Regions from separate parts of the Homo sapiens genome. Here region 1 is linked to region 2. Evidence: fine-mapped expression QTL. Tissue or cell type: whole blood. Region 2 holds a variant in brackets; the other region holds the start of a gene. Each region is shown on its reference strand, or each on the opposite one. Region 1 holds the start of LAG3 (lymphocyte activating 3). Region 2 overlaps CARINH (colitis associated IRF1 antisense regulator of intestinal homeostasis).

Region 1 (2,500 bases), not on the chromosome of region 2:
TCGCCGGCGTCCGCGCGCCGGGCTGGGCGCAGCCATAGCGAGAAGTCCCCGCGCTGCCGGCCGCGCTCATCCAGCTGGACGCGGGGCTGCAGGGGCAGCCTCCCGCTGCGCAGGCCTCCGGGACCCACGCTCAGCACCGTGTAGCGGCGGGGCCTGGGCCCCCAGGAGGAGGGCGCCGCCGGGTGAGGGCCGGGGGCCAGGGGATGGCCGGGGGCGGCAGCGGGCGGGCCACTGGGCGGGAAAGAGAATGGAGTTGAGAAGCTCCAGGGGTAGGAAGCCCGGGAGGATGCAGGCAGCCACCCGTTGAGGATGAGAAAGCCCGCCCCAAGAGTTCTCTTGACCACCAACCGTCCCCTCACGCCCGACCCCTCTGTTGGACTGGCCGCATCCACTTCTGGAGAGAAGGGATGCTGGCGTGAGGGTCGCTGATTGCAGAGCAAGGGCAGGAACGGTGCAAGCGAGGGCAGGGAGACTGGGTCACTGGCTTCAGAGGGAGTGACACCTCAGGGCAGGGGACAGAGGACCGGCACGGGTGTGGGGTTGAGTGCTGGATTCGGAGGTCCTGTTGCCCAAGTTTGGGGTGCATACCTGTCTGGCTGATGCTGCCAAGTGACCCCTGCTCTTCGCAGAAGGCTGAGATCCTGGAGGGGGATTGTGGGGCTGCAGGGGAGCTGGGCAGGAGCCCCCTCCTGGGCCCACACCACCGGGACCTCAGCCCCTGGCTGGAGAGGCTTCACTAGGTGAGCAAAAGAGAGGCCAAGGGGAGGGGGCGTGAGCCGAGAGGCAGGGGTAGAGAAGGAGCCTGGGTGTTTCCCGAGGGAGAAACAGGGTGCAGGAAGAACTTGGGTTTCTGTTTCTTCTCTGCCCAGAGAGGCTTTCGGGGTGGAAGGACTGCCCAAAAAAGGGATTAGAAGAATCCACAGAGCTAAGGACCTCAGGACCTTTGTGGCCACAGAGATCCCTGCTGGTCCCCTCCTGTGGGGCTGGAGGTCAACCCTCCCGCCATCCCCGTTTTACCTGGAGCCACCCAAAGCGGCTGCAGAAACAGCAAGCCCAGGAACTGAGCCTCCCACATCTCTCCTATGGTCTGGGCAGCGCTGAGCCCTCCAAAAGGAGGTCAGAAAAGGAAAGGGGGCAGTGGTGGGGGGTGGGGGGTAAAGGAGAAGTTCTGCAGAGAGGGAGGTGGAGGAAGGGGTTCTAGAAGAAGGGAGACCAGGAGAGGGCCTTGGAGAGAGGGTGGGGAGGGATGACCAGAGGCCGGAATCCAGAGGAAAGCTGGAAAGCTGGGCAGATCAGGCAGCCTGAGGAGGTGGGGGCGGGGGTGTCCCAGGGAACAGAGCAGGGCCGTGGCGGAGAGCAGACAGAGCAAAGTGGCCGTCGTGGCTGGGATGCCGTTCTGCTGGTCTCTGGGCCTTCACCCCTGTGCCCGGCCTTCCCTCCACCTTCCCCACTTCCCCTCCTCCCGGCCCGCCCCCCGCACCCCAGGGCTTACGGTTTCGCTTCGCAGTGGAAAGTCTGAGGGGGTTGATTCCCAGCAGCAGCACCCTCCACCTCTCCACCTCTGTGGTGGCGCTCCCCTTGTTTACTTCCTCAGTCCTGGGTCTCCCCACCTCCCCCTCCTCGCCCCTGCCCCACCCTCCAGACTGCTCCCTCTCCCAGGGACCTTCTGCCTCCACGAACCATTTCTGCCTGGAACTGCCCCCTTGCCCATCTCTAAGCTGCCTCCTCAGTCCCAATATTCACACCTCCTTCTTGGCAAGCTCTTTCCTTGTTGCTCAATCTCCTTCCTCGTTCCCTTAACCTCCCAGAACTTCGTGACCCCTTTAGACCTGCCTTTCCACCCATCAGTACAATGTCCCTGGGAACATGGTGGACAGGAAGCCTTACTGCACCCCAAAAAATGGTAGGTCTGAGGCTAGGCATGCCAGCTTTGTGGGGCATGGAGAATAACTACATTGTATTGAGGCTTCATTACGTGCTAAGCACTGTATTGGACACTTTACTTATAGTAATTCATGAAATCTAATGCTTTTCCCCATTGTACAGATGAGGAAACTGAGCTTCAAAGAAATTGTACAATTTGCCAAGGTTAGGGAGCGTGAAGATAAAAGCTGTGAGTGTACCTGTGTGCGTGACAGTGTGTAGTCCTGACCTTGGATGAGTTACGGGCGTCTCCTGGGAGAAATGATGCTGTTGATGAGTCAACACCCCTCCCCACTCCAACTCAGGTCCCCATGCCCTCAGAAGCATCCTCCAGTCCAGAGGTTCCGAACTAAGAGGAGAAGGCAAGGGCCATGCGGAGATGGAGAAATGCAGAAATCTTAGAAATCTCCTAACAGAGATCAAACTCAGGGGAAACAGAGGCAGTGGGACTAGGGAAGGCCCAAGACTGACAAGAGTCATACAACTCCCGCTCCCCAGCCCAGCCCAGGGAGAGTTGGAGGGCAGGTGACGAAACATACAGCCGACCTGGGGATGACACGAGACCCAGGATTTCCCT
Region 2 (3,016 bases):
GAGAAAAGGGCGATGTGTCTGTGGCTGGATTTGGAGGTAAATGAACGTGCTGTCCCTCTCTAATTGGTGTGCACGAACATGAACTTCAGTCACTTGCGTGGCTATGGCCTCTTTCTTCATCTCTCCCTGCCAGTGAAGCTGGTGGTGCCCTGGCTCCCAAGCCAGGTGGCAAAGCTGGGGAAGGAGGCTGTAGTTGGGCCCAAATATGGGGGTCTGGGGGCACCTCCACAGGTTGTGACCACTGCAGCATGCTCTGGGGCCAGGCCTATGGCAGTGGAGGCAGGACAGCCCCCAGGACCACAGAGCCCCCATAGTGGAGGGAGCCACTACTTGGGCGGCTCAGCTCATTCCTGCTGACTTGCTGCTGTACAGGGCAGAGGGGTGCCTGAGACAAAGAGGAGACACACTTCTCCCACGAGAAATAAAGCAAGCAGCTGTTCCTCTCTTGGGCCCAGCAGGGGTCAGAGGCTGTGGGACCTTCACTCCTTCCCTCTCAGTGGAGAGGGCAGATCTGCTCTTTGGGGTGTGAGGGCACAGCCTCCTGACAAGCTGGAGAAGCAGGATTTAAGAGCTAGAATCAACGGAGAATGTGAGGCCCAGCATCAGGTTCAAGAAGCAAGGGGATCAAGGTTGGGGGGGAGGCAGGGAGCCTGAGCCTGGCGCAGCCCAGACCAACAGACTGAGGAGTCCAGAGAGCCAACATGCTCACTCGGCCATCGCTAAGATGTGTAGTGTGTGAGAAGGTGTGAGAGGTACTCGCGTTTCTCTCTCCAACCCCTTCCAACATATTATTGGGTCGTGGGTGCCATGTTTTTAGTAGACACATAAAATAAATGAGTATTTTCAGAGAAGTGCAACCCTGGAGGTGCAGGGGAGTGAACTCAGCCATGAGAAATCATTCAAAGGATTGACCTATGGAACAGGGATAGACTTGCTCTCCATGGCTCCAGCAGGGAAGCAGCAGAGAGGGGAACCTTTCCTGAAAGTCCAGTGTGACATCTGAAGACACACACACACACACACACACACTTTTTTGAGAGAGAGAACGAGAATGAAAAGATACACACTGATCTTTCAACAGTCGTTGTCTCTACCTGGTGATTGCGAATGATTTTAATTTTTTTCCTCTTGTGCTTACAGTATTTTCTAAAATCTCTAAAATACACCCAAATTACTTTCTTGTTATGGCAAAATAGACATAAAATGTCTACATCCATTTTAACCATTTTTAAGTGCAGAGTTCCATAGTATGAAGTACATTCTCACTGTTGTGCAGCCATCACCACCATCCATCTCCAGAACTTTTTCATCACCCTCAACATAAACTCTGCATCCACTAAGCAGTATCTCCCTGTTCTTCCTCCTTCCAGCCCCTGGCAACCATCCTTCTACTTTCTGTCTCTATGAATTTCACTATTCTAGGTACCTCATATAAGTGGGATCATCTGGTATTTTTCCTTCTGTGTCTGGCTTATTTCACTTAGCATAATGTTTTTAAGGTTCATCTATGTTATAACATGTACCAGAATTTCATTCCTTTTTAAAGCTGAATTATGTTCCATTGTAC[A/G]TATTCACCATATTTTGTTTATCCACTCCTCTTGTCATGGACATCTGGGTTGTTTCCACCTTTTGGCTATTGTGAATAATACTGCTACAAACACTGGTGTACAAATATCACTTTGAGTCCCTGCTTTCAATTCTTTTGGGTATATTCCTAGAAGTGGAACTGCGGGATCATATGATAACTAAGTTTTTGAGGAACCACCACATTGTTTTCAACAAAGGCTGCATGATTTTACGTTCCCAATAGCAATGCACAAGGGTATCTATTTCTTCACATCCTTGCCAACACTTATTTTCAGGTTGTTTTTGTTGTTTTAAAATAGCCATCCTAACAGATGTGAAGTGGTATCTTACTTATTATGGTTTTCATTTGCATTTCCCTAATCTAAATTACGTTTTAAAATCCAATCCTCTCTGAATTGAACCCTTTGTTCTTTATTTCTCAATAAAATGGACCTTGCCCCCTTTTTTTCCTTCTTTGTACCTATGCTCTGCATTTTAAAAAATTGTGGCAAAATACATATAACTTAAAACTTTACCATCTTAACCATTTTCAAGTGTAGAGTTCAGTATTAAGTATATTCACATTGTTGTGCCCTAACCCAAATATAGTATATAATGGCAAAAAGAAACAAAAGGCTCTCTAAAGAAAAAGAAAGCCGTGAATTCTTGGACCCCAGAGATGTTCACAAACAGATTGGATCAATCTCAGCAGGGACTTTCATTCATCTTCTGAGCATCTCTGCTGGGCTGGGCTCTGTGCCAGGCAGGGGTCTCCGTGGTGAGTGTGGCCTGGACTCTGCCCTTGGGGTTCAGCCTCTGTGGGGAACAGTTATACCCAAGGGCTGCTGTGGGCACAGAGGGACACCCTGTTGTGTGGGTGCGGCATTGGGAAGGGGCATAAGTGAGGTGGCACATGAGTTCAGGTGGGAAGGATGAGCAGACATGTACATGTGCAGAGAAGGGAACTGGCGTGTGTGGCTGGGCTGTGGCAGCACACCTCACAACCACCATTACAGGAGCATCTATTAATCATTTATGTCTGTCTCTCTACTTGATTATAAGCTGCATGAGAGCAGGGCTGATGGTTTTGTTCACTGCTGCATTGCTGCCATGCCCAGCACAGGCAAGTGTAAAAGAAACACTTGCTGAATAAATGAGTGGTTGATGACGAGGAAAAAGGAGACATTTCTTTCCAGAATCTTGGCTGTAAGCAGCAGACAGCATGGCTGTACTCCACGGGGAAGGCAGGATGGCAGGAAGCATTATACAGGTGATGGAGACAGGAGCACAGCAGGAGCCAGTGGAGAAGAAGAGTTTGAAGATTCCCTGGTTGAGAGAATGGAAGGGCGTAATTGCTGGGGAGAGGTCCCTGAAGAAAGGGGAGAGGCTGGGATGCAGGCTCAGTGGAAGGAGAGGAGTCTCCTTATGAGACTCAGATGGCCAGTGTGAA

Evidence for each region.
Region 1: it holds the start of LAG3, and the variant in region 2 is fine-mapped to the expression of LAG3 in whole blood (TOPMed, PIP 0.98).

Annotation. Positions count from the first base shown.
Region 1 is chr12:6,771,428-6,773,927 of GRCh38, reverse strand. It overlaps LAG3 (lymphocyte activating 3), which reads right to left and starts at 1,408. Exons shown (of 8, transcript NM_002286.6): 1 at 1,018-1,408; 2 at 589-736; 3 at 1-231. The coding sequence starts at 1,075. RefSeq lists a silencer at 1-148.
Region 2 is chr5:132,460,438-132,463,453 of GRCh38, reverse strand. All of the region lies in intron 3 of CARINH (colitis associated IRF1 antisense regulator of intestinal homeostasis), which reads right to left. Among named protein-coding and RNA genes, the nearest start is that of IRF1, 29 kb to the left of the region's middle. The variant A/G (reference allele first, on the strand shown) is at 1,568.